Regions from separate parts of the Homo sapiens genome. Here all the other regions are linked to region 3. Evidence: fine-mapped expression QTL. A gene starts in region 3. Each other region holds a variant in brackets. All regions are shown on one strand. Distances are from middle to middle.

The links. PIP is the estimated chance that this variant, and not a neighbour inherited with it, causes the effect.
Region 1: its variant is fine-mapped to the expression of GLRX in lung (TOPMed, PIP 0.98).
Region 2: its variant is fine-mapped to the expression of GLRX in whole blood (INTERVAL, PIP above 0.99).

What each region holds. Positions count from the first base shown.
Region 1 is chr5:95,845,171-95,847,933 of GRCh38, reverse strand. All of the region lies in intron 1 of LOC124901029 (a long non-coding RNA gene), which reads left to right. The region is part of intron 2 of LOC102724720 (a long non-coding RNA gene); the gene reads right to left. Among named protein-coding and RNA genes, the nearest start is that of LINC01554, 5.7 kb to the left of the region's middle. RefSeq lists an enhancer at 821-870. The variant G/AG (reference allele first, on the strand shown) is at 1,161.
Region 2 is chr5:95,854,891-95,857,653 of GRCh38, reverse strand. LINC01554 (long intergenic non-protein coding RNA 1554) reads right to left here. Exons shown (of 3, transcript NR_026936.1): 2 at 673-776. Among named protein-coding and RNA genes, the nearest start is that of LINC01554, 4.0 kb to the right of the region's middle. The variant A/CCCCCA (reference allele first, on the strand shown) is at 1,021.
Region 3 is chr5:95,821,079-95,823,841 of GRCh38, reverse strand. GLRX (glutaredoxin) reads left to right here and starts at 1,116. Exons shown (of 3, transcript NM_001118890.2): 1 at 1,116-1,386. The coding sequence starts at 1,180. RefSeq lists enhancers at 1-368, 599-688, 2,605-2,744.

The DNA.
Region 1 (2,763 bases), 24 kb before region 3:
ATGATTTTCATGTCACCAGTATAAACTAATACAAAGGCAATTTTAAAAGAGAAGTCCCCAAATTGTCTTGATCAGTGGTGGTTATATTGGCATAAAAGTACTGCCTCTGAAGATGACTCCTTTAGTGGTGATAATTTTTTGGATATGTTTTATTAGGTTTGTGGAAAAGCTCAGTATGACCACAGCATAAGCTATACCTCATATGTACCTCAAATTCGAACATATAGACAACTGCATGGCTTCCCTTGTTGACCATTCTAAGGGTTTGAAGGTAATACAGGTGGCAGAATAAGATTTTATTAGAAGAAAGAGTTCCATGGCTAAGAAAATGTTCAGCACAGGGCTAGTGTATCCTTGAGACTTTTCACAACACAAAGATTCTAAGATTCAATATTCCAAAAGATCTGTGGCAAACTGAATAATTTTCAGAAGTGAGTTTCCACTGAATTAGCCACATTCTTTCTCCTAATTCCTCTTGTAAATGATAGCAATCATTTACAGGCTAATATTAAGCATCTTATCACTGAGAACTCTATAATAAGTCTTCATTATGATGACACTGATATATTTGGAATAATTAGTAAAAGACTAAAAATTATGTCCAGTATAGTTTTTGCTTTAAAGCATATTTTAAATGGGATTGTTTTTGGAGAAAGGGAATCTCTGAAAGCGATTTAACTTAATATTTACCCATTTACACTTCACTGGGAAGATCATTGGTTCATCACATGCACTGTTCTTCACTGCCACTAGGTGGTGCTCCAGCCATAATGTCTCTTCCTGAGCCTCCAGAATCTGTTCACTACATACTGCCCTAGGGTAGGTCCCACTGAACATGGCTGGTCTTGCAAAAATCACATCCAGTGTGAGGTATGTTTCTAAGCTCCCTAAAGTTTACACATAACCCCAGACTGAGGATGACAGTAAAAAAGCCCGCTATTCAGGAAAGCAGAACTCGACCCACAGTGGAAAGAAAACAACTAAGGCAGGTGGGGTAGTAGAGACAAGCCCAGGCTTTTCCCCCTGATGGTGTCTTTAGTAGTAACCTAACCATCTACTGCAGTGGCTGGCCCAGTGACGCTGAAAGGTGAGGCTATGCAAACATCTTCCATGGCCTTCCAACTACCACAGCTTGGCCAACACGAGCACCAGGAAAAAAA[G/AG]ATCTGGGAGACGGACCAATTATGGGGACCTTAGGTCTGTGCCGCCCATCTGTGCCTGGTACCCATGCTTCATATCTATCCAGATTTTATTTGCTTTGGGCTAGCAGCTCACCATATGCCAGCACAGGCGACTTGCCCCAGGAGGGCAGACCTTTCCCTGGACTGTGAACAAAATTTATCTCCCCATTTCCTGAGTTCTTTCAGTTACATTCTGTACCTTACTAGTCAGTTTTGAGTCAGTTTCCAAAAGAAATGCATAGAGGTACAAGCTTCAAAGAAAGACAATCTCCATACGTGGTTCAGTGTACAAACACGGGCAGTGTGTGTGCATAGTCACAAACGCTAAGTGGCACAGAAAAAGAAGCAATCTGCATGAGTCAGGGTATTAAAAAGGCTTCACAGAAGATGTGGCACTTAAAAACAGGACTGCAATGTTGGGAGATGGAAAAGATCTTGGAGAACATCTGGTCTGAGGCTCTGAAATAGTTCATCTGAGTCTTTTTTTTGAGATGGAGTCTCTCTCTGTTGCCCAGGCTGGAGTGAAGTGGTGCAATCTCGGCTCACTGCAACCTCTACCTCCCGAGTTCAAGAGATTCTCCTGCCTCAGCCTCCTGAGTAGCTGGGACTACAGGTGCCCGCCACCACACCTGGCTAATTTTTGTATTTTTAGTAGAGACTAGGTTTTGCCAAGTTGGCCAGGCTGGTCTCGAACTCCTGACCTCAGGTCAGCCGCCCTCCATGGCCTCCCAAAGTGCCGGGATTACAGGCATGAACCACCAGGCCTGGCTGTTCATCTGAGTCTTAAAGGCTCATGAAGGTACCTCAAGAGCCATCCTTGAGGCCAACCAAGGAGGCTTCCAGGTCCCACCCACATTTTAATAGCAACAGTTTTATCTGTTTATTTATGGGGGTTCAGTGTAAGTTCTGTTTGAACAAAGAATTCTACTCCTTTTTTTAAAGTTGGAACCATTGATCTAGTCCAAGCTGCTCATTTTACAGATAAGATCACTGAAGCACATTGAGAACTTTCCCAATCTCACACATGGCTTGAATTGAAAAGGTAGGGAACATTTTGGATATGTAGAAGAAGGGTGATATGGTTTGGCTTTCTGTCCCCATCCAAATCTCATCTTGAATTATAATCCCTAAGTGTTGAGGGAGGAACCAGTGGGAGGTGATTGGATCATGGGCGTGGTTTCCCCCATGCTGTTCTTGTGATAGTGAGAGAGTTCTTATGAGATCTGATGGTTTAAAAATGTAGCACGTCCCCTTCCCTTGCTGTCTCTCTCTCTCCTCCCACCATGTAAGACACGCCTTGCTTCCCCCTTTGCCTTTCACCATGATTGTAAGTTTCCTGCAGCCTCTCCAGCCATGCTCAACTGTGAATCAATTAAACCTCTTTTTTTTTAATAAATTACCCAGTCTCAGGTATTCTTTATAGCAGTGTGAAAATGGACTAATACAAAGGGAGACCAGGGTGTCTGCAGGGAACAAGAAAGAACCACATCTCCATCTGACCCACAGGTTAGAAAAGCATGTTTGTCAAACTATATGAACCTAAAGGCAGTTTATATTTGCTGACCAAGTTCTATTCAGAGATATA
Region 2 (2,763 bases), 34 kb before region 3:
CTCTATTTTCCCGCTCATTTTAGGGCCACAGTGACTCACCAGCCATGTGCCCATACCACTCATTTTCACAGAGCCCTGGAGTATGAGAGCAGGGCTTGAGGAAAGAGCTTTCGTTCACTTTGTTTTGAGCCAGGACAACAGACTGGGAAGTGGTTGGAACACACAGTTCTGGGTCAGAGGTCAGAGAACAGACAGGACTCCAAAGGCTAAAACAAACAAGATTTCTCACAGCAGCTCTGGCCGCGTTGAGACCCACGGGCTGGGGCTGGCCAGTCTGTCCCCACGTGGGATAGACTGTGTCCAGAAGGGTGGCCTGGCCTGCTCCTGGCTAGAGCAGATGAGGAAACCACTGTCCTGGATTCAGCTCCCAGTTCTGCCACATTCCAGCTGAGGGCCTGTGGGACAGTCGTGAAGAGCCACATATGGCAATGTCATCTCTCAGGAACCCAAGACGCCAAGGCCCCTCACTGTAATGTGGCAATAACGCCAGCTAGCATGCAGAACTGTTGTGGGGTAATGAATGGAAGCTAATGTATGAGAAGGAGCTGTTACACTCCAGGACTCTAGATACCAAATTTTATGGTTATCAGTTTCACAGCAAAAAAAAAAAAAAAAAAAAAAGAAAGTACTCTTATTCTCAAATTATTCTTATTAGTTCTGGTGTGCACTTACATGAGAAATGGCAAAGGGATATTCTGCTTGCAGTCTTTTGCCCTCTGGCAAAAACTTTCCAGACAGGGTGTCATCGTGTGCAGCTTCCGTGATGCAGTTTGATCCTGATAGGTAACAAGAGTGACACGTTTTATCAGAATCTTTTTACATGGCTCAAGGTCACTTCCACCGACACCAGTGCTATTAATATTTCCCCCATTAAGCCAACCCGTCCTAAGAGCCAAAGAGAATACCATAGTTCCAGGTTTCGGTTTGAAGGTGCTGATGGATGAGAGTAGAAGGGAGTGAATGAGGAAGCCCAGACCTTCCTGCAGGAGCAGGGAAGCAAGACCCAGGCCAGCACTGCCC[A/CCCCCA]CCCCCCAATAGCCTTCCCAAGGGTGAGGGGCAGCCATGCGGAAACTGGCACTCACTAGGCCAAGACAGCACAGGCCTCCAACCTTCAGACAAAAGCCTTTTGTCTGGGAGGTGCTGGGGGACACCACACAATGCTGTTTCTTTCTAAATTATTTTTTTCCCCTGAATGCTATCTAGATCCTGGAAATCTATTTCCATGAAATGATTTTAAAATATCCTATATGATAATTGAACGCTTGTCATCAACATGAATGTCCAACATTAGGGGCATGGTTAAGTATAGAATGTTGTATCCCATGATGTTTATAAGAGTTTATAAACATGTGGAGGAAGGGTACAATAGCATAAAGGAAGGCTTGTGTTAGGCTCACATATGAAAAATAAAGAAACAAGAAAAAAAGCTGCAGGCAGGAGTGTACAATGGTAGGAGCTGACGGTACAAAAGATAAATGCTGAAACTATTCTGTAGGATACTGAAATGATGGATACTGACCTGCATTCGTCAAAACCCACAGAACTGTACAACACAGAGAATAAACCTTAAAGTAAATGATAGACTTTATTTAATAATAATGTATGAATATTGGTTCACTAATTGTAACAAATATATGGCACTAATACAAGTTCTTTGTTACACGATGTTAATAATAGGGAAGGGAATATGTTCAGGGAAGGAGGGCAGAGGGAAACAGCTGTCCTAGCTGCTCAATTTTACTATAAACTTTAAACTGTTCTAAAAAATGAAGTGTATTAATTTTCTTAAAACTAAAAATAAATAAAGAAATAACCAGAAGGCAATAAATCAAAATATGAATAGCACTGGTTTTGGATAGTGAGACTATGACTAGCTGCTTTTTCGTTTTTTACTTTTCTGATTTTCTCCATTCTAATTTTATCAATCAGGTAAAACTAATGAAAAGTTTTAAAATCTTGTCTGGGTGACTATTCTCTGAGGCAGGAACTGTGTTGGCTCACAGTGCTCTGTGGTCTAGTTCCCTAAACACAGCAGGAATTTAGTAAGTTTTGCTAATAGCGCATAAGCACTTTTAAATACATCTTCAACTCTGTCTGCCTTGCAGCCTACAAGCTTGTCGCCTCACGGCCCGAGAGAGGACAGCAAATTAAAGTAATAATTGTGAGAGGAACAGATCAGAGCATCTAACGAGTGGTTGGTTGGGTCACTGTAAATTGAAAATCTCTCCTTAAGTGGCTAGAGGCCTGCGTGGGCATGTCGAGAAGCATCTATTAAGTGGCATCAATGGGTAGAGTGGTGGGTGCTGATATAAGACCAAACCCAAGATATCATGTCATCAAACAAGAAGCATGGGCAAGGCTTTGGCATGTAGAAATTGCTGCAATGGGCTGGGTGCGGTGGCTCACGCCTGTAATCCCAGCACTTTGGGAGGCTGGGGCGGGCGGATCATGAGGTCAGGAGATCAAGACCATCCTGGCCAACATGGTGAAACCCCGTTTCTACTAAAAATACAAAAAATTAGCCAGGCATGGTGGCGGGCGCCTGTAGTCCCCAGCTACTCGGGAGGCTGAGGCAGGAGAATGGCGTGAACCCGGAAGGTGGAGCTTGCAGTGAGCCGAGATCAAGCCACTGCACTCCAGCCTGGCTGACAGAGCAAGACTCCGTCTCAAAAAAAGAATAAAAAGAAATTAATGCAGTGAGATTGGTTTGAGAATTGGGAAGAATTATACCAAAACAATTCTTAGCCGAGTGCCTGATACTTGGTGAAC
Region 3 (2,763 bases):
ACTTCCTGGGGAAAGGATGATTCACGTTTAAAGGACATAGTTTTTCCTTGATTTGTTTATTTAAGCTACCATACACTAGAGGGGGCCGGAACTAGACCCAGGAGTAGAGGACTTTGCTTTGCGGGATAAGGAGAATGGGCACCCTGGGGAAGAGCGAAAGATTTCCTACTGTTACAACCCGTGTCTTATAACACTTGAAGTGAATGTGGTGTCTGAGTTACAACACTACTTCCCCTCACAAACAGTTAAAAGCAGAGGGTCACAAACATAGGCTCAACCAGAAAAAAAGATTCTCATTTCATCTGTAGTTTTGTATCAAGGATTGTGTTGGAATTTGCCTCCATATTAAACTGCTGTTCAAGGGTTACCAACTCAAATGGTTATGGGGTGAAGCCGGTGTCTCAGGCATGGGCCTGTCGTTGGGACCTGTGGCAAACCAAAGCCACTACTTGCCCTATACAAAGGGGGCAACAGCTGTCAGCCCCAGCAGCTTCCACTAAAAGGTGCAAGCTCTGTATTGCCCGACCTGACTTTTCAGAGAGAAGTTTTAAGTCCGAATTGTTTTGTGAGACCTCCAGATTTTTAAATACTGAGAATGAATTCCATTAAAAAGATCACAACAACAAACACCCACCATACAGTCCAAGCAAAATGCTGTGAGAGCAACCTTCATGAGGAGTGCAAAGTCACAGTTTCAATTTCACTTCTTCTAAAGAGATTTCCAAGTGTTCTGTTTCTTAAGTGATTCTGTTTGCATTTTAAAATACAACTGTATCTCCTAGAGGGAAAACAAGAATTTGCTCTAAGAAGTCACTGCCTCCTCAGCCCCTTTGTGAGTAAGCACTTTATGCTTCCCCAGAGGTGACTAAACTCTGATCATTGCCAATGGGCAGGCACTCCCCAAATGTCCAAGGACAACAAAGATACCCAGAGTGTCTTTCATAGCTACCAATGATTAAATAGCAAGTATTGCATTCCTGGGCATTGCTAACTAGTGAAGTATACCAGATGGAAATGTCTTCGAAGCTGTCCCTTTAAAACTCGAGCAAGCTACCAGGCAAACTCCGCCTCCAGGGAGGTTCCTTATTAAATAGGAGCCAACTGGCTGGGTCGGGGCTCAATACCCCAAGCAATACCTGCAACTGAGGATTCTTCCCGGGGAGACCGCAGCCCATCGGCATGGCTCAAGAGTTTGTGAACTGCAAAATCCAGCCTGGGAAGGTGGTTGTGTTCATCAAGCCCACCTGCCCGTACTGCAGGAGGGCCCAAGAGATCCTCAGTCAATTGCCCATCAAACAAGGGCTTCTGGAATTTGTCGATATCACAGCCACCAACCACACTAACGAGATTCAAGATTATTTGCAACAGCTCACGGGAGCAAGAACGGTGAGTTTCATTTTAAACGGCTAGGGAAAGGCTCCCGGATTGCCTTTTCTTGTCAGAGCTGTGCCTTTCTTTAGGATAAGGCTGCGGCTCCGTACTTCAAGGCGTCCAGAGGGCTGTGCGGGGCGGGGGGTGTGGGGGAGGGCGCCTTAGAGAGGATCTCGGTCACTTGAATGAGCGGCGGCACTGCAGCCAAAGGTCTTCACGGGGCAGAAGAGGGAGTACAGCTGATGTCTGCTGTGCGGCAGGGTAAGTGGGACCAGCAGCTTGCCGGTGAGTCCCTGGGGAATTATCTAGAGTCTTTGTTTTAAGCACTGCCAGGAAATGACAGTTTTCAGTTGGCAGGGCTGGAGGTGGAAGCTGGGGTGGAGGGCCGGGTGTGATGTGTTTGTTATTTAACATGAGATTCATGTTCTTCATTCTTTTCTCTAGGCTTTCTTTTTCTAATTTGCTCATTCTTCCTTATCTAATTCCTCCCACTGGAAAAATCTAATGTACCGTTATCTGCCCCTTGTTCTAAATTAATTATGGATGTTTCCAGGCCCCACATTGTAGGGAATCATAGCCTGGAGTTCTGGCCTGGCTCTTATAATGGCTGGCTGTGTGATCCTGGGCAAGTCACCACCCCAGTAGTCCTCAAAGATCCCAGCTGCAAGACCAGATTAGGTGACCTCAGAGTCCCATTTGCTACGAATAGACTGTGGGACCCTCTAAAAATTGCTCTCCTCCATCCGAAAGACTTCCCTCTCTTCAGCATCCTTGGCTTTGCGTCCTGGGCTTCAGGAGGGATGCCAGCCACATCACCTGTATCAGTTCTGCTGTGAGGTGGGATGAGAAATGTCCCACCAGCTCAGCTAAGTTCTCTTTTACGATGCACGAATTCTACAGCACAGTGTTAGGCCAAGCACATATCCTATTTCAGTTTTAGTTTGACTTACAAGGTTGTCTCTGGGTTCTGAGTATAAAGCATTGGAGGTTGTTTCTCTCCCCTTCTCTCTAATAAGAAGTCAGCATTTTGGTGCAGAAAGGGGGCTTAGTGTGTTATCCTACTGCTGTGTGCTGAGGTCCTGGAGTATACACAATGACGAGAGAAGCTCTTGCTGCCTAGTGGGACCACCAGCTGCATAGGATGCCCAGGCCCTGAGAGGTGTAAAGGGCAGTGCAAACACTACTACGGGCCCCACTGTGGCTGCCACCCTGAGGACCTTTTAGCCATTGGTTCCCAAACTTTGCTGCACATTAGGATCACCTAGAGAGCTTTTAAAACAATCCTTATGCCCAAATTATGCCCCTCAATAACTAAATCACAATGTCAGAGGTGGGAGCCAAGCATTAGTTTTGTTTGTTCGTTTGTTTTGAGACAGTTTCATTCTTGTCACC